Homo sapiens: one gene and its partners. The protein of the gene in region 1 purifies or fractionates together with the protein of each later gene. This does not show direct contact. Each region holds a gene or a part of one and is shown in the gene's direction. Other genes may lie near its edges.

What was found.
Region 2: the proteins of GCFC2 (region 1) and UBR2 purify together in Homo sapiens (affinity purification with mass spectrometry; 4 studies listed by BioGRID and IntAct, with this or other methods). This does not show direct contact.
Region 3: the proteins of GCFC2 (region 1) and DDX23 purify together in Homo sapiens (affinity purification with mass spectrometry; 3 studies listed by BioGRID and IntAct, with this or other methods). This does not show direct contact.
Region 4: the proteins of GCFC2 (region 1) and PRPF19 purify together in Homo sapiens (affinity purification with mass spectrometry; 2 studies listed by BioGRID and IntAct, with this or other methods). This does not show direct contact.

The regions. Positions count from the first base shown.
Region 1 is NC_000002.12:75,700,912-75,707,938, reverse strand, and holds part of GCFC2 (intron Large complex component GCFC2), read left to right. Parts: intron 1-1,287; coding exon 1,288-1,416; intron 1,417-5,491; coding exon of another isoform or gene 5,492-5,515; coding exon 5,516-5,740; coding exon of another isoform or gene 5,741-5,769; exon of another isoform or gene 5,770-6,143; intron 6,144-6,651; coding exon 6,652-6,749; intron 6,750-7,027.
Region 2 is NC_000006.12:42,686,010-42,693,036, forward strand, and holds part of UBR2 (E3 ubiquitin-protein ligase UBR2), read left to right. Parts: intron 1-2,206; coding exon 2,207-2,377; intron 2,378-2,977; coding exon of another isoform or gene 2,978-2,999; exon of another isoform or gene 3,000-3,540; intron 3,541-3,559; coding exon 3,560-3,661; intron 3,662-5,022; coding exon 5,023-5,164; 3' UTR 5,165-7,027. UniProt on the Homo sapiens protein: E3 ubiquitin-protein ligase which is a component of the N-end rule pathway.
Region 3 is NC_000012.12:48,849,154-48,856,523, reverse strand, and holds the start of DDX23 (probable ATP-dependent RNA helicase DDX23), read left to right. Parts: upstream 1-4,360; 5' UTR 4,361-4,440; exon of another isoform or gene 4,441-4,474; intron 4,475-4,709; exon of another isoform or gene 4,710-4,803; intron 4,804-7,370. UniProt on the Homo sapiens protein: Involved in pre-mRNA splicing and its phosphorylated form (by SRPK2) is required for spliceosomal B complex formation.
Region 4 is NC_000011.10:60,890,039-60,896,604, reverse strand, and holds the end of PRPF19 (pre-mRNA-processing factor 19), read left to right. Parts: intron 1-5,341; coding exon 5,342-5,439; 3' UTR 5,440-6,058; downstream 6,059-6,566. UniProt on the Homo sapiens protein: Ubiquitin-protein ligase which is a core component of several complexes mainly involved pre-mRNA splicing and DNA repair. Required for pre-mRNA splicing as component of the spliceosome.

The DNA.
Region 1 (7,027 bases):
TTAATAAAATAACAATTTTTTAATTAGTTCATGAAGAGCAACTGGCTTTTTTCTGCCATGTGAGGTAAGGAAAAATACCATAACTGCTACTACAAATTGATTCATTCATGCCAAGAGCCTAGCAGTTTTACCCATCACTGCCTTTACTTCATTATATAAATATCAACATGGTAAAAAGAACAAATAACATGTTATTATTGTGATGAAAGTAGTTTTAATTTCACAGACTCTCTGAAAGAGTCTCAAGGACCTCCAGGGATTGATAAACCATGCTTTAAGACCCACTGCTTTGGTGTTAATCCACTTTGGAAACAGGTATGGGTTGTCATAAATGACAATATCTAAGAAAGATGTGAGCTGCAGCTATATTTTTTTTAGTGTTTTAAATTTTGATTTTACTCCAGCCTTTTTTGAACTGTATGTAGGTCTTCTAACTAAGGTAGAAAATTAAAATTAATGAGTAGTATGTAATCTTATGTTTTAAGGTTACTCATAAAGATTGCAAATTTATTGTGGATTAAGAAATCCTTTCTTGTCAATAATGTCAAGAATTCCTTTATTTTGTTCATTCAATTTTCACAACACCCCTGTGGGTTTTATCTTGGTGTTATCTTTGTTTAACAGATTAATTGAATTTAACAGACTATTTACCTTCCCAAATCATGCATTGAAAAGATGGACCCATGGTTTAATATTGACCAAAGTGCTCGTTACAATATTTCTCGCCACCAGCCGTTGAAATATGGCATACTATAAAGAGAGCCTAAGTTCTGAAGTTGCCTGGGATTAGGTTGACAGCCCTGCTTCTCCACTGCCCGAGTTGGTGTTCTTTATCCTCTCAATCCTTAGTGAACTCATCAGAAATTGCATTTACTTTATAGAATTACAGGTATTAAATAAGTCATGTAAAACAGGTTTCAGTGTGCCTAGTACATAGTATACATTAAATATTTTTCTTTTCTACTTATTCACAATCATTACTATTCTAAATATTACTTCATTTTTTGTCGCTTTTTTTTTCTCTAATGCCTCCTTCCCTTTTCTCATTGCATACTTTTGGAAATATATTATTAGATGCCTAGATAATACAAATAGGGTCTTTGTACACTTAGTAGATCATTCAGTTGCTTAAGAAAGAAAGTTGGAGGAAGATCAATATGTCTACTTTAATATATGGACTAGGATTAAAACACCGTATTATACATATGCCATGTGTTGTTCAGAATTTCAATTAATAATTCCATTATTTTGACTCTTTTTTGTTGTATTTTTAAAATGTCCTGTTAGAATCCAGAACCCTTGATGTGTCCACAGATGAAGAGGATAAAATACATCACTCCTCAGAAAGTAAGGATGATCAGGGTTTGTCTTCTGACAGTTCTAGCTCTCTTGGAGAAAAAGAACTTTCATCAACAGGTTAGTAATTTGTATGATTTTGGTTAAGAATTTTATTTTTAATATAGTGTTTTTGATATAGTTATTAATGACATAACAAACTCTAGTGACATGGGGCAAGTAGGTCATTAATGATGATTGTCAGAGTGCCAAAATTGCTCATTTTTATTACATTTTAACATGCACAGGTCAGACAGCTTATAAGTAGCAGGGCTAGGATTCAAACCCAGTTTGTTCTGGAGCCTGTATTCTTCTTAATCACTGTGCTATACTGGGTGATTGACATTGATACTTGAAGGATGGTAAGAATTTGTCAGGGAGGATGTTTCAGGTATAGGATGTAGCATATCTGAAACTCTAGGGAAGGTATGTAATATGTGCAGGAAGCTAAAAATAGCTCTGGCTGAAAGTATTTGGTTGCGAGTTTAAGGAAAAGAAAACAGGAAGGACAAGTTGGAGTCAGATTATACAGGGCTTAGGGAACCACTGAAAATTTTATACAGATGACATGAATGTTTTTGTGTCTTAGAAAGATCAGTCTAGTTCAGGGGTTGGCAAATCTGGCCCACCACCTGTTTTTGTAAACAAAGTTTTATTAAAACACAATCACAGTCTTTCAGTTACTTAATATTTGTGGGTGCTTTTGCACTGCAGCAGCAGAGTTGAGAAGTTGCCACAAAGACCCTATGGCCCGCAAAGTGAAAAATATTTATCTGGCGTCTTACAGAGGTTTATAACTTGTTTTGTGCCGTGGACTCCTTTTTCAGTCTAGTGAAGCCTAAGATCCCTTCTGAGAAAATAAAGTAAAATACATAGCTTTGTAGAGGAAACAAATTATATTGAAATAAAATTATTAAAATATATTTTATGACGCTTGTAATATAGTAATAAGTGCTTCTGTGCTTCTTTTTTTTTTTTTTTTTTTTTGAGATGGAGTCTCACTCTGTCGCCCAGGCTGGAGTGCAGTGGCGCAATCTGGGTTCACTGCAAGCTCCGCCTCCCAGGTTCACGTCATTCTCCTGCCTTAGCCTCTTGAGTAGCTAGGACTATAGGCCACCACGCCTGGCTAATTTTTTGTATTTTTAGTAGAGATGGGGTTTCACCGTGTTAGCCAAGATGGTCTCGATCTCCTGACCTCTTGATCTGCCCACCTCGGACTCTCAAAGTGCTGGGATTACAGACGTGAGCCACCACGCCCGGCCATAAGTGCTTCTTTATTAGCCTATTAAATAACAACAACCAGTAGCTCTGTAACCTTGTAATTTTGTTTCTTCTCCATGTCCACAAGGTACAGAAATACTAAGCGATTAAGCCAATATTAAGAACTGAAATCTAGTAAACAGTTGAAGCCTTGTCTGGATTCTAGATACAGTGCTATTCAGTAAAATTTTCTGTGGTTTGGAAAAATTTTCTATCTTCACTGTCCATATGGTAGCCACTAGTCACAAGTGGCTGTTGAGCTCTTGAAATGTGGCTATAGCGAGACTGAGAAATTGAATTTTTAGTTATATTTGAATACTCACATAGGGCTAGTGGCTACTGTACCAAACAATGCTACTATAAAAGATGGCGGATTAGACTAGGTGCCATGGCTCATGTCTGCAGTTTGGGAGGCCGAGGTGGATGGATCACCTGAGGTCAGGAGTTTGAGACCAACCTGGCCAAAATGGTGAAACCCTGGCTTTACTAAAAATGTAAAAATTAGCCAGGCATGGTGGCATGCACCTGTAATTCAGGGGACTGAGGCAAAAGAATTGCTTGAACCTGGGAGGCAGAGGTTGCAGTGAGCAGAGATCATGCCAGTGCACTCCAGCCTGGGCAACAGAGCAAGACTCCATCTCAAAACCAAACAAACAAAAAAAGATGGTGGATTAAACAGGATAAGGCAGTGGTTGTAAAGTGTTGGCAGCACTGCCCCCACCTTAGGAGAGAGGGCAGCGTTTGAAAATGTGTGGGATTATTTAAATGATTATAGTAGTTGAGTTGTTGCTGGCACATAGTGCCCTAGAGGCAAGGGATGATAAATGTCTTAACAGGAGTGCAGAACAGTTCAGCGCAGTGAATTGCCCATCCCCTATGCACATTGAGAAACGCTGATTAAAAATTGAAAACTTGTCCTGTGAGGAACACCTGAAAGTTCGAAGGACTTATTGGCTGGCGAAGAAAAGATGGAGGAATGTGTTAATTTTAAGGGCTGGCATGTGGAAGAAGAGCATTTATTTGTGTTCCGATGAATAACTGCCTCAAAATAGTCCCTCTAGCAGAGATTACTTGTTACTAATAGAAGATGATAATTTACCTCTCAGCCCTAGATGATTGCATATCAGATAGGATGATATATGTGAAGAATTATTCATAAGTTATAAATTTGTAAAAACATGATGTATTTATTATTGAACAATATGCTGACATTATTGATTCCTCCTATGTCTGCCCAGCATCTGCTGTGTGAGAACCCTTGAACGAGGTATTGAATATGCAGAAACAGGACAAACGCAATACTCTTCTCTTCCTTGGTTTTTTACTTCTTTATTTTTACTTGAGCAGTTACCTTTATGTAGCACTAATATCTTACTAGTGTGTCCCATTGCTTGTGACTTACTAATTAAACCCTACCGAGTCACCTGCAAGAAAATCACTTCCAAAATAAGTATTTCTGTGTCCACATTCATACACTTGAGTATTTGAACCTAAATGTCTTATCTTAATCCTGCCTGCACATTAAAATCCTCTAGGGAGCTATAAAAACATACTTCTGCTCAGCTCTGCCTCAGATCAACATCTGAATCACTGGTATAGAGGCCTGGGTATGTCAAGCTTCTCAGGTGACTCTGATGTGTAGCCAGGGTCGAGAATTGCTACTATAACCTGCTGTGATGGTTTTGAATCTTAAATGCTTTGGGAGGAGGAAGAGACACCTGACCTTCATCATGTCCCTGACAGTAGTCTATAAATAATTACTAATCTATAAAAAAGCAAATCACTTCATTTTCTATTACTTGTTCTTGATGAATATTTATTGACTTCTAGTGATTTCTTTATTGCTTCATGATTCACTCAAGGACTTTTAATTTTCCCTAGGGCTGATGTCAAGCATATTGGTCTGTGATTTCTAAAATCTTTCTCTTTTTTTGTTTGTTTCAAACATGGGAGCTTTTGTGCATCTCCAAGTACATGGCATTTTTCTGTTTATTTCTCAAAGAATTTGGGTCAACTTGTGGGAAAGTTTAGAAAATTTCACTTCAGCCTCAGTAGCTTGACATCTTTTTAGTAGTTTGAAGTGCTTAAAATGGTGAAAATTTCTCTCGCTGTTTCTTTAATGTAGTATTTTTCTTAAGAAACCGTTTTTTCCAGAATGAAGATAAATTTCAGCTTAGATCATGCATGAAGAAACTCGTTTTAAATTGGAAGAGTTTATGCTAATGATATTTATGCTGTACAAAATAAAGAAAAAAAATAAGACTCTCTTAAGAGTTGTTGTCATTTAAAATTTTTCACCTGGTAAATGAGCCTGATTATTTTCTTTACACTTCTTAATGTCTCATGTTTATTCACGTGGGGCTCACTACAGAACCGCAGAGGCTAATTTGGCTTTGCTCTGTTACTGTTTGTAGTATGTTTGTGATTTCTTGTAAGTGTGGGTAGGAGGGAAGGAGGAAGGAGGACATCATAGTGTAGTATCTCTCTTACTTGGTAAGTCAGGCTGGTCTGTCATTGATCCTTCTAACTTCTGTAGCTCTCACTGATTGGGGAACACCACACTCAGCCCTCTCCACATCCCTGCGCTGACAATCTCAGAGCTTCCAGAAATGAGAAATAGCGACCCCTCAACAAAGTGAGCAGTACCTGATGAGTAAGAGAGTTAAAAGATAAAATGAAGCAGTTTCAGTATATTTTCTGATACTTCTAGATTTGTTTGATTTTTCTAAGTTGTATTTAATCTCTATTAAGTTTTCTTCCTTTGCTGATACAGATTTTGAGCCATTTATTAAAGTCACATTCATATATCAAAATAGCAAATAATTTAGGAAAATGGTGCTTTTTTCTTTTTCTTAAATGTGAGGAATATTTACTTACATTGGTCTTTGGTTTTTAGTGTCCTCGTCTTTGTTTCCTTCAGTTAAGATCCCAGATGCAGCTTTTATTCAGGCAGCCCGCAGAAAACGTGAATTGGCCAGGGCCCAAGATGACTATATTTCTTTGGATGTACAACATACCTCCTCCATCTCTGGTATGAAGAGAGAGAGCGAAGATGACCCTGAGAGTGAGCCTGATGACCATGAAAAGAGAATACCATTTACTCTAAGACCTCAAACACTTAGACAAAGGATGGCTGAGGAATCAAGTATGGATTTACCAATATATGAAGATTAGGATATTTTTTATTAGAATATAATATGAGAGAATCTCCATAAAAAATGTAATATGCTGGCTCACATTTTATAGTGTTGATAATGGTTTTTAACATCGATTTGGTCCATGATATTGTGACCTCTAAAAGATGTATCTGTATCAAAATGTTATTATCAAGGAGTATGTGTAATAATGTTTATTAATGCCTGACCTCCCACCTTGATGTTTTTGGACAGGTTAAAAAAAATGTGCAGTATCTTACTTTCAAAGCATTGAAAACGATCGTTTTTACCTGTATAAATATATTTTTTTTAACATGGAAGCATCTATAGAGATTTTAGATGTCATGTATTAAAATCTTCCCTGCTGTAATAAAAAATTTCCTCTACCAATAATACTAAGCCTTAAAGGACTGTTTTCATATTTCTCATTTATGATATATGCATTTGACCAAGGTTTTGGTAACTTTAAATAATATTTTTTTCAGAAAAGGACTTAGTTCCTTACAATTTATTTTTAAGTGTTTGGATTCTCAGGTAGTAATTGAGAGATCTTTGATAAGAAAAACCAAACATTTCATTCTTTCTCAGTTTTTTACAATATAGGGCTATAGTGTTTTGAGTGGGACAGTTTAGTGATAGGAGTGCAGGTTATGGAGTCAGATCCCAGGATCCAGCTTCCAGCTTCAACATAGTCCTAAGACAGTTACTTAACCTCCCAATATTTGCATTTCCTCATTTGTGAAATGAGGGCAGTAATAGTGCCTTCTTCCCAGAATTATTATGAAGAATAAATAACACGTCAAGTGGTGCTAAGCCTTTGTATAATCTCAAAAAATGTTGGCTTGCTGCAATTAAAATGGAAAAATACTAAACGTTTACATGTGAGCTTTTTTTCCGCTAGTAAGCAGAAATGAAGAAACAAGTGAAGAAAGTCAGGAAGATGAAAAGCAAGATACTTGGGAACAACAGCAAATGAGGAAAGCAGTTAAAATCATAGAGGTAATCATTTTTTATCCCATGTGTATTAGATTCCTGTGGCTGCTATAACAAATTACCACAAACTTGGTGACTCAAAAGAACACACATTTATTCTCTCACAGCGTGGAGGCCAAAATCTGAAGTCAAGGTATTGGCAGCACCTTGCTTCTTCCAAAGGCCCTGGGGGGTTGTGGGGAGCGGTAATTCTTCCTTGCCTTTTGCAACTTCTGGTCATTCCAGGTGTTTCTTGGCTTGTGACTACATAACTCCTCTCTCTGCCTCTGTCTTCACGTGGCTTT
Region 2 (7,027 bases), on another chromosome or scaffold:
CATTCCATTCCTATACATTAACTATATAAGTTTCTATTCTTGAGCAGCATGTATTGTTATTTTGTATGTTTTTTTTTTAATTAGTATTTATTGATCATTCTTGGGTGTTTCTCGGAGGGGGGGATTTGGCAGGGTCATAGGACAATAGTGGAGGGAAGGTCAGCAGATAAAGATGTGAACAAAGGTCTCTGGTTTTCCTAGGCAGAGGTCCCTGCGGCCTTCCGCAGTGTTTGTGTCCCTGGGTACTTGAGATTAGGGAGTGGTGATGACTCTTAACGAGCATGCTGCCTTCAAGCATCTGTTTAACAAAGCACATCTTGCACCGCCCTTAATCCATTTAACCCTTAGTGGACACAGCACATGTTTCAGAGAGCACGGGGTTGGGGGTAAGGTTATAGATTAACAGCATCCCAAGGCAGAAGAATTTTTCTTAGTACAGAACAAAATGGAGTCTCCTATGTCTACTTCTTTCTACACAGACACAGTAACAATCTGATCTCTCTTTCTTTTCCCCACATTTCCCCCTTTTCTATTCGACAAAACCGCCATCGTCATCACGGCCTGTTGTCAATGAGCTGTTGGTTGCACCTCCCAGATGGGGTGGCGGCCAGGTAGAGAGGCTCCTCACTTCCCAGACGGGGCAGCCGGGCAGAGGCGCCCCCCACCTCCCGGACGGGGCGGCTGGCCGGGTGGGAGCTGCCCCCCACCTCCCGGACGGGGCAGCTGGCCGGGTAGGGGCTGCCCCCCACCTCCCGGACTGGGCGGCTGCTGGGCGGAGACGCTCCTCACTTCCCAGACGGGGCGGCTGCCGGGCGGAGGGGCTCCTCACTTCTCAGACGGGGCAGCCGGTCGGAGACACTCCTCACCTCCCAGACAGGGTCGCGGCCGGGCAGAGGCGCTCCTCACATCCCAGACGGGGCGGCGGGGCAGAGGCGCTCCCCACATCCCAGACGATGGGCGGCCGGGCAGAGACGCTCCTCACTTCCTAGACGGGATGACGGCCAGGAAGAGGGGCTCCTCACTTCTCAGACTGGGCGGCCGGGCAGAGACGCTCGTCACTTCCTAGACGGGGTGGCGGCCGGGCAGAGGCTGCAATCTCCGCACTTTGGGAGGCCAAGGCAGGCGGCTGGGAGGTGGAGGTTGTAGCGAGCCGAGATCGCGCCACTGCACTCCAGCCTGGGCAACATTGAGCACTGAGTGAGCAAGACTCCCTCTGCAATCCTGGCACCTCGGGAGGCCGAGGCTGGCAGATCACTCGCCGTCAGGAGCTGGAGACCAGCCCGGCCAACACGGCGAAACCCCGTCTCCACCAAAAAATACAAAAACCAGTCAGGCGTGGCGGCGCGCGCCTGCAATCCCAGGCACTGGGCAGGCTGAGACAGGAGAATCAGGCAGGGAGGTTGCAGTGAGCCAAGATGGCGGCAGTACAGTCCAGCCTCGGCTCGGCATCAGAGGGAGACTGTGCAAAGGGGAGAGGGAGAGAAGAGAGGGAGAGGGAGAGCTGTATGTTGTATTTTATTTTATTTATTTATTTATTTATTTATTTATTGAGACAGGGTCTCACTCTGTTGCCCAGGCTGGAGTGCAGTGGTGTGATCTTGGCTCACAGCAACCTCCGCCTCCCAGGTTCAAGTGATTCTCCAGTCTCAGCCTCCAAAGTAGCTGGGACTACAGGTGCACACCACCATGCCTGGCTAATTTTTGTATTTTTAGTAGAGACGGGGTTTCACCATATTGGTCAGGCTGGTCTCAAACTCCTGACCTCAGTTGATCCACCCACCTTTGCCTCCCAAAGTGCTGGGATTACAGGCGTGAGCCACTGCACCCAGCCAATTTTGCATTCATTCAGCATTGTTTCTAAGATTTATCTGTATTGACGTTTATAACTTTATTGATTTTTCATTGCTCCATAGTATTTTATTATATGGCAGTGGTACCGTTTATCTTTTTCTCCTATTGATGATTTTATTTATTTTTTTTTCTCCAGTTACTGATTCTTTTGAGTGTTTCCAGTACATGGTCTTTGTATATATGTGCAAGATGTTTCCTATTCCAGATTCTAGGAATAAACTTGCATAGACTGTAGGATATACACTTCTTTGGCTTTACTTGATATTGCAGAATTCTTTTCTGGGCTGGTTTTTTCATCACTAGCTCTTTAGCCACTCTTTAGATCAATGACTTGTGGGTTTTTTATCCCTTGGAGGTGCCCGAAATCAGGTGGTGATAAGAGCAGAGCCCCAACTCTGTGCCTTGTGTGCGGATCTCTGCTGTGCTCCCAGAGTTACTGCTGCCAGACTGAACTGGAAGGGGAGGATGTAGGAGCCTGCACAGCTCACACCTACTCCTGTGGCTCTGGAGTGGGCATCTTCCTGAGGTAAGGACCTGCAGGGGCTTTTTAGCTTTGGATCTGCCTCAGTATCTGACTGTTAGGGTGTCACAGGAAACTACTATATTGCCAGGAATTTTGAGACTACTGTTCCGTGTGATTCATTCCAGAAACGTGGAGCTCCTTGTCGCCTCACATCTCACATCTGGTCCATGCCAACTCTGTGTTGGTTCTTTTATTGTTACCATTCCCACTCCTCTTCCCTCAACCATAGGTGACAGTTCTGTTCTACTTTCTCCATGTCTCCCACTAATGTGAAACTTCTCTGATTTTCTGAACAAATCCAGTCAGAATTACTCTTTCTGTTATGTCCTCATGGCTTTTGGATTTTACCTCCACTTATACATATTATCACAACTCTACATGCCAGCTTGTGATTAGTGACTACTATGTACCAGGCATTGAGGATGCAGTAGTCCACAGTGCAAAGATCTCTGCCCTTATGGATGGAGCTTGTTTTGTATGAGAGAGAGGACAAGCAAGACTGACAAGAATTTAGATAGTGATATAGGCTAAGGAGAAAAAATAAAGCAGGGAAGGGGAATATGAAATGGCAGCTATGGAGCTAAATTTGAGATTTAATTTTAGTAGATCAGGGAAGGCTTCCTAAGAACATGACTTCTGAGTAAAGACCTAAAGAAGTGGGAGAACATTCTACTCAGAACATTCTGCACAGTTCCTGGGGTAGAAATGTGCCTGTCTGCTCAAGGCAAGGAGGCGCGTGTCACTGGAGTGTTGTGCACAGGTGAGAGAATCCAGGGGCCTGCTGTGTGCTGGTGACATCTCTGGGCAAGGTGTAAGCCATTTCAGGGTTTGAAGCAGAGGCATGACATGAGTGTGGGCTCCTCTGGAGCATAGGTTGTATCCATAGCTTAGTCATCCCCCCAGTACCTTGATAATTTCTTATACGTATTAGGTCCTCAATAAATGTCTGTTTAATTGTGCTGTACTATTAATGCCAGAAAAAGGCAAATGTCTCAAAGGGATCAGGGGACACAAATTTGACTCGATTCAACCTATTTCCTAGTTTGTGCACAATTTTTTAATGGATAACTTCCTCCTAATAGTGGTTTAAATATCAGTACTATAAGACTTCATTCTATTTGGAACTGAATACAAATGTTGGTTACTAATGTGTAAATGTGTAACGTATGACTGATCTCTCTACAGAGTACGGGAATGTCAGGTGCTATTTTTAGCTGGCAAAACCAAAGGCTGTTTTTATTCTCCTCCTTACCTTGATGACTATGGGGAGACCGACCAGGGACTCAGGTAAGAACCCATCCTGAGTTAGCTAACTCAGGGCCTGCAGCGCCCTTCCGTATGTGGTGACGTCCTGAGGGTGGAGGGCTGAGGTGGTTCTGGAAGAGGTGGCTGTGTTATCTGTGGAGTCTTCCAAGGAGGGTGCCCTGTCAGCCTGGTTTGGTGTTCTTTTCCCAGCCTTCAGAATGCCATGAGGAACATCAGGATAGGTAAGGGAAGAGAATAGGACAGAGTGCAACTTTATTCCATTTATCACTCCAAAGAACTGTTTGAATTGCCATATAGCATCCCAGCTCAGAGCACTCCAGGGATGGCCCACTCTGACTTGTATGGCCTTGTATAGAGGAAGCCCAGTGTTTGAGAAAATCTTAATTGCTAACAAATGTGCTTATTACATTAAAATCTGGGGGACAAAGATTTAAAACATAAAGAACAATATAACAATATTTGAGGCTAAGTTACTTCTACTCTGGTAGCTTTAGTATATTGTAAGCTAACAATTCCCCCAAGCACTATTAAAGAACTTCTTTCAGACCATCTCTTTTGTCTAAAGGAGGTATAAGTTTTAACCGCCATAGATATGCCTGTCCAGCCTTAAGTAGCAGATGTTAAAGGCCTAGAAACCCAAGCAAGGTAAGTAGATGAGCTGCCCCAGGCGCTGGACTGCGAGGCTATGCCCATATGCCACCCAGTGCTGGTGCTTCCCACTGTTCTCAGCGTGGGCTGTTAGGAGGAGGAGAGTCTGATTAGTGAGTGAGAGGATGGCTGTGCTCAGAAACAGGAGCAGAGGTGCCTGGCTCAGGGCACTGGTCCCAGGCAGGAACCCACCAAAGCTTGCACTTGTGTTTAAATTAGACCTGGAAGTTACTCACATTTGATTGCTTCACTGAGACTGTGGCTGAAAGATTGCATCTGAGGAATGTTTTTCTTTTCTTTTCTTTTCTTTTTTCTTTGCACTCTTAGTAAAATCTGTGAGGAATATTTTTACTCCTATAATTCTTCTTTTGTGTTCTCCTCTGCCCTCTTCCCTTTTTACACGTTACCAACAAAATGGGCAATGAATTGGTAGTTTTAGCCTCTCAACCCAGACCCTCCTTATCCCCCGCAACCTCTATTCCCTCACCTCACTCTGGGTAAGTCTGGTTTGTGTACCTTTCCTTCCTCATTTCAGCACTTATTCCCTTTTACCTGCTCTTGGCAAAGGGTCAGAGCTGATGTTTTTGTTAATAGCCACAGTCACCTGCCAGACAGAAATGTTGCAGGGAGTCTAAAACCAATAACTTGTAACCTTGCCTAAATCAGGAAGGGTTGGGTTATAATAGAGGAATAAACAGAACACATTCTGAGTGACATGTGTCTTCTCTTTCTAGACGGGGAAATCCTTTACATTTATGCAAAGAGCGATTCAAGAAGATTCAGAAGCTCTGGCACCAACACAGTGTCACAGAGGAAATTGGACATGCACAGGAAGCCAATCAGACACTGGTTGGCATTGACTGGCAACATTTATAATTATTGCACCACCAAAAAACACAAACTTGGATTTTTTTAACCCAGTTGGCTTTTTAAGAAAGAAAGAAGTTCTGCTGAATTTGGAAATAAATTCTTTATTTAAACTTTCCTTCCCAGTTTTATAGTTTCTGGTTCTGAGGACTGATGAAAATCATCTTCCATCAGCAGATTTTCTTGCACTGTTTGCTGTGCCCCTCAAATATAATGTCTTGGGTTTTAAGATCGAGCAAGGAGCTTCTCTTCCTAGATTGGATCCCAGCCCCTTTGTGGGGGTCTGACTGCATAGTCCCAGCCATTATGTGATATTTCACGTTATTGATGATAGTGAACCGTGGGTCCGAAGCTGACTCAACGGAGGCAGGGAACAAAGTCTCTGTGGTCTGTTGGGTCATACTTCCTGGTTCCACTGAGTGGCCCAACACTGGGACTGGGTTGGTGTCCCCTCTGCTGACAGGACCCTACTCCTAGGAGCAAAGTGGTTGATTTTGAAGGCAGTGTTCCCTTCTCTCCATTGACTATGAGAGAGTTGGGGGACACACATGCAGAAGAAGCCCGTGGGGAGAAGGTGGATTCCTGGTGTGCTGGCTGGTTTTTCAGGGCTGTTAGAGGTTTTTTTTTTTTCTTTTTTTTTTTATGGCAAGACTTTTGGCTTTGAGAAAACTCACTTAGAGGGCTTTCCAAAAACTTAGGATGGTCTAAAAAATTAGGATATTCTTTTAGAATTAGGAAGAAAAATTAGGATATTCTAAAAGAATATGGATTAAAAATTTAGGATATTCTTTTAGATATCCTAATATCTAGATGAGAGGCCTTCCTTCATAAGATCTGGTTGTTTGGGCTGTGGTTGGCATAAGTGATATTTATTTTGGCCTCTGTCACATCCAGTTTCTTGAGCTTTTAAGGTAAGCTTCTTTTGGCTTTTTTTCAGATGTTCACCAAGCTTAAGTTTAAAATAATAGGTATTCTAAAAGAGTATCCTAATTTTCTTATCTGTATTCTTTTAGAATACCCTAATGTTTCAGACAGTGATATTCTCTTGTTATTTCTAAGGCTAAATTGGCAGAGTATATCATCTAAAGCCAAACACTGAAGAAGGTGAGAACCCACTCCCACCCAGCCAGCATTTCCTGGAACAGACAAGCTGCTGCTTCCTTGCTGGCTCACTTAGTGCATTCCTGGGATGGTCTGGCACCCAGGCTTTTTATTCTTTTTGATCATTGTTCTTACTGAGGTGCCTTCCTAGAACAAGAGCCACTTACAAAATAGCTTATAATTATTATGTACCACACAACTACTATTGTTTGATGTATGACTGCTGAGAGCTTGAATACATGCAGAGAGTGACTGAAGACTTAGTAGAGGAATAAATTCTGAGCCTGTCTAAGGTGGGGCTAAGGAACAGATGAGTAATAAGAGGCTCTTGGATTTTTTTAACCAATGCAACTGACCCTTTCAATCAGTTTTCTTTGAATTACATCTACAAGTTTTGTTCCACTCAGCTACCAGTCAACTAGGCATGCTCCACAGTATCACAGGAAGAAGGTCAGAAATCTGGAACTGAAGCTAAAAGAAGTGAGGATGTAGAAGCCACATTCCTCTCCAAGGTAGTGTGTGAAAGAACCGCCCCCTCTTGACAGGAGGATGACCGTCGCCATTCTTGCGTGGGACTGACTCACCCAGCTGAGAGGAGGACCAATAGAAAGAAAATTCACATTTGAGTCCACCTCTCTCCCCCTTTTTCTGGCCTTCATTCATAAGATCTGGTTGTTTGGGCTGTAGGTGGCATAATTCATGTTTATTTTGGCCTCTGTCACATCCAGTTTCTTTAGCTTTTAAGGTAAGCTTCTTTTGGCTTTTTTTCAT
Region 3 (7,370 bases), on another chromosome or scaffold:
AAAGGTTGGATGAAATCATCAGTAGAGGATCCAAGCTGCTGAGATTCCACCCCACATAGAAGGTGGACAGACTAAGCCAAAGCTGGGGGAGGCTCCTGGGATTCTGGTCTCCTCTGAGTTCAAGGAGAGGTGACATTTGCCTTCATGACCTTCCAATTCCGATGCCTACTGATGGCAGCTCAGGGGCCTTAACTCTTAACTTCCTTTCTCAGTGACTTATAGCTCTTGTTTTCCAAGTGCCATAGTGTAGTGCTAGTGCCAGAAATAAAGTTAGCATGTACTAGGCCAGGCGCGGTGGCTCAAGCCTGTAATCCCAGAACTTTGGGAGGCTGAGGCAGGTGGATCACAAGGTCGGGAGATCGAGACCATCCTGGCTAACACGGTGAAACCCCATCTCTACTAAAATACAAAAATTAGCCGGGCATGGTGGCACGTGCCTGTAATCCCAACTACTCGGGAGGCTGAGGCAGGAGAATCGCTTAAACCCGGGAGGCAGAGGTTGCAGTGAGCCAAGATTGCGCCACTGCACTCCAACCTGGGCAAAAGAGGGAGACTCCATCTCTAAATAAATAAATAAATAAATAAAGTTAGCATGTACTTAATGAGTGTTCAGCACTGTGCACTGTGTTGAGGGCTTTACATGATCACATTTAGACTCATAAATGATAAGAGCTAACATTTGTTAAATGTTTACTATGGGTCGGGGCACTTACGAGATTTTTCTTTTTTTTTTTTTGAGACAGGGTCTCACTCTGTCGCCCACGCTGGAGTACAGTGGCATGACCACTGCTCACTGCAACCTCACCCTCCTGGTTCACCGTCCTGATCACCCTCCTGACCCTCCTACCTCAGCCTCCTGGGTAGCTAGGACTACAGGAGTACCACAGTAGTAGTCTATTTTTTGTGGAGATGGGGTTTCACCATGTTGCCCAGGCTGGTCTTGAACTTCTGGGCTCAAGTGATCCTCCTGCCTCGGCCTTCCAAAGTGCTGGGATTACAGGCATAAACCATGGTGCCCGGCCCCACTTACGAGTTCTTTCTATGTTATTTATTCCTGTGATAACCCTATGAGCCTATGAGGTGCTATTTTTTTTTTTTTAGACGGAGTTTCACTCTGGCTGGAGTGCAATGGCACGATCTTGGCTCACCGCAACCTCTGCCTCCTGGGTTCAAGTGATTCTCCTGCCTCAGCCTCCCAAGGGACTACAGGCATGTGCTACCATGCCCGGCTAATTCTGTTTTTGTTTGTTTGTTTGTTTGTTTTTTTAGTAGAGACGAGGTTTCTCCATGTTGGTCAGGCTGGTTTCGAACTCCCGACCTCAGGTGATCCACCCACCTTGGCCTCCCAAAGTGCTGGGATTACAGGTGTCAGCCACGGCGCCCCGCCGCTATCTACTTCATTTTACAGAAAAGAAGACCGAGGTTCAGAGAGATTAGGTAACGTGCACAAGGTCACACAGCTAGGAAGTGGTTGAACATGGATACAAATCCAGGCAATCTGGCTTCACATCATGCACTCTAACTTGCTCTGCTGTCCTGTCCTGTGAGGGAAGTGGTATTATTATCTCTGTTTTGTAATGAGGAAAGAGAAAAGCCAGAGATGCCATATAATTTGCACAAGATCACAGTACTAGTAAGCAATTGAGCCAAGATTCAAACCAGAACTCACTGTTCACCAAAATCCCATGGACCCCTTACTGGTAGGCATGTTGTACCTAAATAGGTATCTCCAGTTATGGTTCTTACTAGAACACCATCCCTCTGTCTCTGTCTCCAAAGATGATGGTTTAGGTGTGGTGACTGGTGCCTGTAGTTCTAGCACTTTGGGAGGACGAGCCGGGCGGATTGCTTGAGGCCAGGAGTTTGAGACCAAACTGGACAACATTGCAAGACCCTGTCTCTACAGAAAGTAAAACGATTAGCCAGGCATGATGGGGTGCACCTGTGGTCCCAGCTACTTGGGAGGCTGAGGCAGGAGGATCACTTGAGCCCAGGTCAGGGCTGCAGTGAGCTGTTTGTGCCACTCCACTTCAACCTGGGCAACAAAGTGAAACCCGGTCTCAAAAATAAATAAGTAAATAAGCCAGGTGTGGAGTCTCACGCCTGTAATCCCAGCACTTTGGGAGGCCGAGGCAGGTGGATCACGAGGTCAGGAGATCGAGACCATCCTGGCCAACATGATGAAACCCCGTTCCTACTGAAAATACAAAAATTAGCTGGGTGTGGTGGCATGTGCCTGTAATCCCAGCTACTTGGGAGGTTGAAGCAGGAGAATCGCTTGAACCAGGGAGGTGGAGATTGCAGTGAGCCGAGATTGCACCACTGCACTCCAGCTTGGCGACAGAGCGAGACTCCATCTCAAAAATAAATAAATAAATAAAATAAAATAAAAATACAAACAAATAAGAAAACAAAGATTCATGTTTGTGAGAGAACTAGTGGGGCAAGACAAATAACAAGTATCCTTGAAGCCCAATGTCTTACATGTGTCATGAGATGTGCGCACAAGTACTAGAGGAACTCTGCCACTATGAACTGGGACAAGCTTTATCACCCTCCAGGAGCTCAATTTAAAGAGAGTTGAGATGGCAGCCTGAAAATGGGGAAAGGTAATGGACTCTGAAGTTAAATGAACCTGAATTTTGGCTCCATTCTTTTCTTTTCTTTTTTCTTTCTTTCTTTTTTTTTTTTTTCCAGTCAGGGTTTTGCTCTGTCACCCAGGCTGTAGTGCAGTGGCACGAGCATGGCTCACTGCGACCTCGACCTCCTGGGCTCAAGCAGTCCTCCTGTCTTGGCCTCCCAAAGTGCTGAGATACAAGCATGAGCCACCTCACCTGGCCCATTCTTTTAACTATGTGGCCTTTGAAGGCATAATTACTCTTTCTGGGCCACAATCTCCTTACCAGTAAAATGGAGATAGCACTCATCTCATACTGCTATGAGAACTAAGTAAAACAAATAAGGTAGGTTAAGTGTCCAGCCCAGAGCTGAGCACTTAGAAGATTCTCAATAAAAAGTGGCTGCAGTTTTTGAAGATTCTGGCCTACCATGGTTGGTCTGATTCTTAGTTTAATCTGTGAATCTGTGAGTCGAGCGCCCTCTCGTGCTTTTGTGGTGAATTACACCTAACAGATCTCAGAGCTCTCTTCTTTCCCTTGCGTTCTCTCTGGAGTAGAAGCTGGGAGGTGAAAGGCTGCAGGTTCTAAGAGAAGTGTGTGTCTCCGAGGGTTACTTTGGGCCATTGTACGTGATGCTCAGGGCTTTAGGATTACTTGGGTCTATCCTGAGGCTCTGCTTGAGAGCTTGGGCATATTCAGAGAGAAAAGGCAGACCTACAGCCATGTGGAATTGAAGCAACAAACCTGCTGCTGGCAAAATGGGAAGGGAGGTCCGAGATACTTCTGGTTATCTAAACCGTTTCCGCAACTGCAATGTTTTGTTTTGTTTTGAGGGAAAGAGTTATGAACCCATAAGACCAAAGAGAAACACAAAGTGAACTTACGATTTGAGGTTAAAACAACAACAACAACATCAACAACAACAACAACAGCAACAACAAAACTCAGTGGAAGACTGAAGTAGGGGAATCTGGGGGAAGAAAGAAGCAAAAATACCAAGATAGCTCAACAATTGGTCACATTCCAAAGGGCAAGAAATTGAGGAAACCAGGGTTCCATCTGGAATGTTGAGAAAACAGGTGCTAGAGCCCAGGAGATACCATCCTTCCGGGAGGACTTTAGAGCCCATTGTGTGGGCTCATTTGGAGCTGTAACAATAACTGGGGGTTGTTATGGCATTCACCCGGCTGCAGGGGCCAAGGTTGCTAAAACGTCCTCCTAAGCCTGGGATAGTTCCACACACAATGGAGAACTGCATCACCCTCCTTGTGAACCTACTCCGGTAACCTGATCTTTAGTTTGTCCAACTGTAAAATGGGGCTAGCCCCATTCTCACAGAATTATTATAAAAACCGCTTTTCCACGAATGGTATTTATTGTTACTGCGGTTGTTAGCTATAATTACGTACTACAGATATCTCAGGAAGCCCTTAAATTCCTCCACTGTAAGCCACGGGCAAGGACAGTCATAGACCGTAGTTTCTAGGAAGACCAGCCGATTCCAAGAAGGGTGCTCGGCGGGAGAACCTAATGCCGAAAGCCTATTGGCGAAAAACTCTTCCTTCCCGGACGCTAACGTCTGGCAAACCACATTGCCCGGCAGACCCCGCAGCCTGGGGCCGGCGCTCAAGTCATGCATTCTGGGATTGGTAGTTTCCAGGCCTCAGTGTCGGCCTGTGCCGCCCAGCTCCAGGAACTCGCCTTCCCAGCTTGCCTCGCGGCCGGGGGGGTGGGGGGTGTTCATCTCCGCGACCAGGAAACGGGAAAGATGGCGACGGCTCCGCGACGTTGAGGCCGCGTTGGGCGGTTCAGACTCAGGGTGGTGAGTCCCGGGCGGTGGAGGCGGTTCCCACGAGCTTACAGAAAGGGCTAGAGTCAGGGCACGGCGGTGGCCCCTGCCTCCTGGATGAGGCGGGAAAGAACGCCTCAGAGAAGGGGCATGAACCCGGGAAGCTCGGGCGGGCTGGAGTGAAGGGGCGCGGGCCCCAGGGGTAGTGTTGGCTCCTCCGGGCACAGGCCACGTCCCTGCACGATATTTTCCTCCCAGGACTCTGCCTATGGGCACAGCGCCTCTGATACCCCCAGTCTGACCTTATTCTTTCATGCTTAAAGTAGCCTTTGGTGCAGCCAAACTGGAACTCTGGCTTTTCTCTCGCAGTCAGTCCATGTTTTCCCGCCTCTGCGCCGGCCGTATTATTTCTTTTGCCGGGAATGACTTCTTTTCCGCGTCCTTAATTACATATCTTAAAATTCTACTTATACTTAAAAGCTCAAGCGTCACTTCCTCTTCCAAGCCTTCCACATCACCTTTTACAAGTGAAAGGAAACGCCTTTGAACACCTGTATTACTACATCTGAGCCTTGATACTCTTCTTGGTATGTGTCTCATACCCCCTATTGTTCTTTTTTTTCTTTTCTTTTCTTTTTTTTTTTGAGACGGAGTCTCGCTCTGTCGCCTAGGCTGGAGTGCAATGGCACGATCTTGGTTCTCTGCAACCTCCGCCTCCCGGGTTCAAGCGATTCTCCTGTCTCAGCCTCCCGAGTAGCTGTGATTACAGGCGCACGCCGCCACGCCCGGCTAATTTTTTGTATTTTTAGTAGAGACGGGGTTTCACCGTGTTCCCCAGGCTGGTCTCGAACTCCTGAGCTCAGGCAATCCACCTGTCTCGGCCTCTTAAAGTGTTAGGATTACATGCGTGAGCCACCGCGTCCGACCTCATAACCCTGTTGTTCTAAACACTTCCTGTGAACAGAATTTATTTTTGTAACTCACATAGCACCTAGCACTGTGCCTTGCGTACAGTAGATGCTTGTTAAATACGTCATTGAGTGAAAAAAAAGAATGTGCCCCTGCCCTGCAAGAACTGAGGACCTGAAGATCTGGAGGTTTGAGAGGAAGGCTGCTGGGAAGCATGGCCAGAGTCAGCCTGGTTATTTGGCCCTTGTGATAATAGAACCTGTAATAAAAGTTGCCTGTATTTACTGTCTTCTTCTCATTTTTCATTCTCTTCCAAACTCATTCCACTCAGGCTTCCATTCCCGCAATGCAACTGAAACAGCTCTTGTCAAGGTCACCAATAATCTCCATTTTTCCAAATTCAGTGGTTACTTCCCTGTCCCTTATTCCCTCTCCACTTCGGTGGTACTTGACACAGTTGACCCCTCCCTCCTTGAAACATGTTTTTGGCTTCTTCGTTGCCATGCTTTTCTTTGTCTTTTCTCACTGGCTGCTAGTTCTTTTCAGTCTTTTTCTCTGGTTCATCCCGTGGCTAACTCCTGTTAAAGTGTTCCAGAGCTCAATTCTGGAGCTTCTTCTCTATTTTTTTTCTTTCACTATGCTGCCTACTTAGGTAATATCATTTAGTGTCCCATGGCTTTAAAAGCTATCTGTGTATTGGTGACTCAAGTTTTTGTCTACAGACCCTCTCCCCTAAGTTCAGATTTGCATTTCTCTTTGCCTTCTGGGAATCTCCACAGATATTCTCACACTCAACCTGGCCAAAATGAAACGTTTGATTTCCTCTTAAATCTGTTCGTTCCCTAGTCTTCTCCAGTTTGTTTGCTATGGCACCACAAACTATTAGGTTGCTGAAACTATAAATTTAGGAGCTATCTTTGTGTCTGCTCTTTCTGCTTCTTCCTTAGTAAGTCCTGTTAGCTTTGCCTCCAAAATATACTCTGACGCTGCCTACTTCTTTCCATCTCCATCGCCACGTTCCTAGAACAAGCCACTGCCATCTCTTGCCTAGAGTACCATAATAGCACTCTCAGTGGTTGTGTTTTCACTCTGTCTCTCTGCTATATATTTTCTTGCAAGTCACCAAAGTATTAGATTGCTTCCTGTTTAAAGCTCTTCTAAGATCCCCATTGCAGTTAAAATCCAAGTTAACTCTACTCTGACCTGTAACACATTTTCATTATCTGACTCCTGCCCAGCTCACTGAACTCATCCTGAATCAGTATTCCTCCTGCATTAGTGCTTCCCAGGGTCAAGAAGTCTTTCCACCTCAGCCTGGGCTCAGGTGATCCTCCCCAGGCAGGAGCGAAGGGGCATGGGCCCCATAGGTAGTATTGGCTCCTGGGGGCACAAGCCGTGTTCCTGGACGATATTTTCCTCCCAGGCCTCTGCCTATGAGCTCTTGAGCACTTTTGAGCTCAGGCATTCCACCCACCCTAGCCTCCCAAAGTGCTAGGATTACAAGTGTGAACCACCACACCTGGCTGATTTTTTTTTTTTTTTCTCTCGAGACAGAGGGAGTCTTGCTCTGTCACCCAGGCTAGTGCAGTGGCACTATCTCGGCTCACAACAACCCGCACCTCCTGGGTTCAAGCAGTTCTGCCTCAGCCTTCCGAGTATCTGGGATTACAGATGCCTGACATCACGCCTGGCTAATTTTTGTATTTTTAGTAGAGACGGGGTTTCACCCTGTTGGCCAGGCTGGTCTCGAACTCCTGACCTCATGATCTGCCTATCTCAGCCTCCCAAAGTGCTGGGATTACAGGCGTGAGCCACTGCTCCTGGCCTCCGGCTGATTTTTAACTGTTTATAAATGTAAAATTTTATTGTTCAAAATAGACGGGAAGTCTTGCTATATTACCCTGGCTGGTCTCGAACTCCTGGGCTTAAGTGATCCTCCCGCCTTGGCCTCCCAAGGTGCTGGTACTACAGGCATGAGCCACCAGGCCTGGCCAAACAAATATGTTTTTAACTGACAAACGTGTAGTTGGGCTCACACCTGTAATACCAGCACT
Region 4 (6,566 bases), on another chromosome or scaffold:
CTTTACATGGCAACAGGAGAGACAAATGCTGAGCAAAGGGGCTAAAGCCCCTCATAAAACCATCAGATCTCGTGAGAACTCACTATCATGAGAACAGCATGGGGGTAACCACCCCCATGATTCAGTTACTTCCCACTGGCTCCCTCCCACAACACGTGGGGATTATGGGCACTACAATTCAAGATGAGATTTGGGTGGCGGCACAAAGCCTAACCATAGCACCAACATCACTGTCTTCTACCTCCACATCTTTTCCCACCGGAAGGTCTTCGGGGGCACCAACATGCATAAACCTGTCATCTCCTATGATGATAATGCCTTCTTCTCGGATACCTCCTGAAAGGGCCTGCTTGGTGCTGTTTTACAGTTAACTTTTTTTTATAAGTGGGAAGAGTATATTTAATACCAAAAAAAGTATAGTATAGGCATACCTTGTCTTATTGCACTTAGCTTTATTGTATTTTATGGATACTTTGCTTTTTATAAATTGAAGGTTTTTGGCAACCTTGCCCCAAGCAAGTCTGTCAGTACCATTTTTCCAACAACATGTGTTCACTTTGTGTCTGTGTGTCAAATTTTGGTAATTCTTACAGTATTTCAAACTTCTTCATGATTTATTGTGTCCGTTAGTGATCTTTGATGTTGCTATTGTAATTGTTGGGCGGGGGGGCACCATGAAATGTGCCCATAAAAGTTACTGAATTTATTTGATAAATGAAATGCTGTGTGTGTTCTGACCACTCCACCCACCAGCCGTTCCCCATCTCTCTCCCTCTCAGACTTCCCTATTTCCTTAGACACAACAATATTGAAACTAGGCCAGTTAATAACCGTATTATGGCCTCTCGGTGTCCAAGTGAAAGAAAGTGTCCCATGTCTGTTACTTAAAATCCAAAGCTAGAAATGATTGAGCTTAGTGAAGAAGGCATGTGAAAAGCCAAATAGGCCAAAAGCTAGGCCTCAACACCAAATATTAGTCAAGTTATGAAAGCAAAGGAAAATTCTTGAAGGAAATTAAAAGTGCTACTCCAGTGAACGCACAAATGATAAGAAAGCAGAACATCCTTATTGCTGATATGGAGAAAGTTTCAGTGGTCTGGATAGAATATCAAACCAGCCACAACATTCTTTTAAGCCAAACCATAATCCAGACCAAGATCCTAACTCTTGAATTCTGTGAAGGCTGAGACAGGTGAGGAAGCTACAAAAGAAAAGTTTGAAGCTAGCAGAGGTTGGTTCATGAGGTTTAAGGAAAGAAGCCATCTCCATAACAGAAAAGTACAAGGTGAAGCAGCAGATGCTGTTGTAGAAGCTGCAGCAAGTTATCCGGAAGACCTAGCTAAGATCATTGACGGTGGGTACACTCAACAACAGATTTTCAATGTAGACGGAATAGCCTTCTATTGGAAGAAAGTGACATCTGGAACTTGCACAGCTAGAGAGAAGTCAATGCCTGGTTTCCAAGATGCAAAGATCAGAGTGATTCCCTTGTTAGGGACTAATGCAGCTGGTGATTTTACATTGAAGCCAAAGCTCATTTAGCATTCTGAAAATTGTAGGGCCCTTAAGAAGGTGGGGCTAAATCTACTCTGCCTGTGCTCTGTAAATAGAACAACAAAGTCTGGATGACAACACATCTGTTTACAGCATGGTTTACTGAATATTTTTTAAGCCCCCCATTAAGAGGTACTGTTCAGAAAAATAGATTCCTTTCAAAATATTACAGTGCACCTCATTACCCTAAAGCTCAGATGGAGATGTTTCATGCCTGCAACATCCAATCTTCGGCTTATGGATCAAGGAGTAATTTTGACTTTCAAGTCTTATTACTTAAGAAATACATTTTATAAAGCTATAGCTGCCCTGGATAGTGGTTCCTTTGATGGATCTGGACAAAGTAAATTGAAAACCTGGAAAGGATTCACCATTCTACACGCCCTTAAGAACATTTGTGATTCATGGGAGGAGGTTAAACTATGAACATAAAGAGGAGTTTGGAAGAAATTGATTCCAACCCTTCAGCCCTCATGGATGACTTTGAGGGATTGAGGACTTCCATGGAGGGAGTAACTGCAGATGTGGAGGAAATGGTAAGAGAATTAGAATCCAAAGGGGAGTCTAAAGATGGGACTGAATTGCTGCAATCTCATGTTAAAACTTTAATGGATGAGGAGCTCTTAGGGATGACCAAAGAAAGTGGTTTCTTGATGGAATCTTCTACTGGTGAAGATGCCGTGAACATTGTTGAAATGATAATGAAGGATTTAGAATATTACATAAACTTAATTGATAAAGCAGGTGCAGAATTTGAGAGGATTGATTCCAGTTCTGAAAGTTCTACTGTGGGTAAAATGCTATCAAACAGCATCCATCACAGAGAAATCTTTTGTCAAAGGAAGAATCAAATGATGTGGCAAACTTCTTTGTTGTCTTATTTTAAGAAATTGTCACAGCCACTTCAGCCTTCAGCAAACACCACCCTTGTCAGTTAGCAGCCATCGACATCAAGGCAAGACCCTGCTGGTGGGTCTTGGAAAAAGATGACAACTCACTGAAGTGTCTGATGGTTGTTAGCATGTTTTAGCAATAAAGTATTTTTGATTAAGGTATGTACATTGTTTACTAGACATAATGTTATTACACACTTAATAGACTACAGTATAGTGTAAACATAACATTTTTTTTTGAGATGGAGTCTTGCTCTGTCGCCTAGGCTGGAGTGCAGTGGCACGATCTTGGCTCAATGCAACCTCCACCTCCCAGGTTCTAGCACAGGTGGGCACCATCACACCCGGCTAATTTTTGTATTTTTAGTAGAGACGGGGTTTCCCCATGTTGGCCAGGCTGGTCTTGAATTCCTGAACTCAAGCGATCCACCTGCCTCGGCCTCCCAAAGTGCTGGGATTACAGGCATGAACCACCATGCCTGGCCAACATAACTTTTATATGTAGTGAGAAACCAAAAAAATTTGTGTGCCTTGCCTTATTGCAATATTTGCTTTATTGGTAGCCTGGAGCTGAACCAGCGATGTCCCTGAGATATGTCTGTACATAAACCAGTAACGTACTGTACCTAATTATGTTATACTTTTTTTTTTTTTGAGATTGAGTCTTGCTCTGTCACCCAGGCTGGAGTGCAATGGCATGGTCTTGGCTCACTGCAACCTCCGCCTCCTGGGTTCAAGTGATTCTCCTGCCTCAGCCTCCCGAGTAGCTGGGACTTCAGGCGTGTGCCACCACATCTGGCTAATTTTTTTTTTTTTGTACTTGTATTTGTAGTAGAGATGAGGTTTCACTATGTTGGCCAGGCTGATCTCAAACTCCTGACCTCGTGATCTGCCCACCTCGGCCTCCCAAAGTGCTGGGATTACAGGCGTGAGCCACCGCGCCTAGCTATATTATACTTTTATACAACTGGCAGTGTAGTAGATTTGTTTATACCTGTATCCCCACAAACGTGAATAATGCATTGCATTGTGACATGATGATGGTTATGACATCACTTGGTGATAGGAATTTTTCAGCTCCACTGTAATCTTATGGGACCAGTGTTTGTGTGGTCCGTCGCTGACATGTCATTATGTGACACATGACTCTATGGCATCCTGAACTGCAGAAGGGAGTAGGGGCCTAAGGCTTCTAGGGGGTGGTGGTGACACAAGTTATGTGGGGGGATGGGGAGGAAGTGCACTACAGAGTCTCTCAGGTAATAAAAGTTGTCTCAGAGCAGACCTTAGATAAATAATGCATGACAGTCTGTGACAAAGACTGGCATCTAGTCTTCTCTCTTGTGAGACCAGTTCATTTTCCCTGGTTGAGATTCCCAGGAAGGGGATTCATGATGTTCCTTTCAGATGACCTGCCCTTAGAGAAAGAGGGGCAAGAGACAGGAGGGCAGGACATGGTCAGAGAGACCTTGGTTCAAAGCCCTCAGCGTGCCAAACCACCATACTTTGGGGTATTGTTTTCTGAGATCCAATATTACTTAACCTCTCAGAAAAGTGGGAATGGTAACTATAGACTCAGTGGGGTTGTTGAGGTTTAGATGAAAATACATACAGGTGCTCCTTGATATACGATGGAGCCACATCCTGATAAGTGCATCATAAGCTGAAAATATTGCAAGTTGAACCATGGTAAATCGGGGACCGTCTGTGAATACATAGGTCAGAACGGTGTCTGGCACGTAGTCAGGATTTGCAGTTGTTCTCACTCAGCATTGGGTCTTAGTCTGTGGTGGGATAGAGCAGTGAATAAAACAGACCCGATTTGGGCACTGATGTAATTTATAGTCAGGTTAGTAAGGCAGATGTAGATTAATTTCACATGTACACATTTAATTGCAATTATAAGTGCTAGAGAAGAAAAGCATGAGATGCTGAGAGAATGGGTAACAGGGTTTCTAACCTAACAGTTATGTGGCCCTGGGTACGTGACTTTCCCTTTCAGATCTTGAACTCCTTCATCTAGAAAATGGGAATATTGGCACAGCTTTGCAGGGTGTGACAGCTGGTGTTGTGGAGATGGCATGCTAATATGCTGGTAACAGGGTGCCTGATGCTCACTTAAGATGCTACATGAATGGGAGCTACTGCTGTGTGTGTTGATGAAATTCTCGTCCTCATTAGCAGGTTGTGAGCAGGATACAAGATATTTCTTCTTGCCCCGTATTCTCCTGAGCCCTGCTCAGTGTGTTTGTATAACAAAGGTGTCCATCCTAACAATATGGCTCACCGGTTTTCACCCTGTACTGTACCTGGTGTTTTGATTTAGAACCGAGTTAGGTAGCTGAAAATACAGCGTGAGCTTTTTAATGGGGAGTTGGTTGACTCCAGGTGTGATCCTAAATCTAGAAGGAATTTGGCCAGATGTTCATGAATTTCTGGAGTCCCATGAGGAATGTTGCCCAGCCTCATCTGCCTCTTATCTGGTCCTGCTCTGTGTTAGGGGCCTGAGTGCCCTGGGGTTGGAACACTATGAGCTAGAAAATGCTGATGGACTGTTCCACTTACGAGCAAGTAGTGAGCACTAGGCATAAACAAGCTGAGCTCTGAGGTTTTTCAACTAAACCTAGCCGAACTGCAGTTGCCCAGAAAGCTCAGGTGAGAAGGGGGGGCTGGCATTGCTTTATTCATTCATCCCACCAGTGAAAAATGCCAGGCACTGAGGGAGGCACTGGGGGTAGTGTGCAGGTCAGCCTAGGGAAAACAAACAGGAGCCTGCGGTGTGATAAATACTAATTAGAGAAGGCCTGGTTGTTTGGGAATCTGTTATTAGGGATCAGTGTTCAGACTAAAGGAGGAAAAGCCTTCTCACAGTTGCCTCTTATCTTTCTCCTCAGAGCATAGCGGCCTGACCACAGGGGTGGCCTTCGGGCATCACGCCAAGTTCATCGCTTCAACAGGCATGGACAGAAGCCTCAAGTTCTACAGCCTGTAGGCCCTGGCCCTTCTGATGGAAGCTGGGCCTCATCTCAGTAGAGGGGTAGAATTAGGGTTTGGGGGGGGGGGTGGGGGGAATCTATGGGGGGAGGGGGCTCTGTGGGGTGGGACATTCACATCATTTCACTCTGGTCTGAGTGGTGGCCTGAGAACCATGGTGGCATGGACCACCCTCATCCATGCAACTCCAGGCCCCATGGGAACGGATGTGGAAGGAAGAACTGTCACCCTCTTAAGGCCCAGGGTCGGAGCCCAGGGCCTCTCCCTTCCTGTCGTTCAATGGACGTGGTGGTGGCTGTTCCACACCCATTTTGTTGCAGTTCCTGTGAGACAGGAGAGGCTGAGCCAAGGGAACTGTGAAGGGGATGGGCAGGAGGGCTTGTGCAGGGTTTTGTAAGCAGTGATCTAGTTTCATTAAAAAAAGAAAACAATAACCATAACCACCTCCCCGTGTCTGTCTGCACCAGGAGCACCTGGGACTGGGAAGGTCAAGGGGAGGGAGCACACACTGGGACACTGGCTTCCGGGAAGCCCATCTTCCTTTCCTTTCACAGCTCTTACCCTTTTTTTTTTTTTTTAATTGCACAGCAGAAATAAAAACAAATCTGCAGATGAAATTTGCCATGTCCCTGCGGTTCTTGACCTTGTGTCTAAAGGCCTCAAGTCACTAGTCCTGCCACTTGCCTTGTAGACTTGGTTTCCTACACAAGCCTGGAAGGGAGGGAGACCTGCAGGGAAGATTAGCTGGATCTTGCTGGTGGGGAGGTCTGAGCATCTCCATCAGGGTTCTTTAGTTGTAGGCTTTCTAGCCTGTCCTCAGCTGGCATAAGTCAAAAAGGAGATTTTTTTATTGACTCTGGCGATTGAAAAGCTGTGGTAGGACTGGTTTCGGGACAAAGATCTGATAATGAATGTGCCTTATAGGGAATTCCTGTAGGGTCACGTGACTGCTTTAGATTGCAGGTCAGGAAAGGCCTCTGAAGTGGTGGTGATGAAGCTGAAGCTGGAATGAGAGGGACCTGAGAGGGGAGGAGTGTTGGCAGGCAGAGAGCAGGTTCTAGGGCTGGACTGAGCGAGATATATGGAGGAACAGGAAGGAGGTCATGGTGGCAAAGTCGGGGGAAC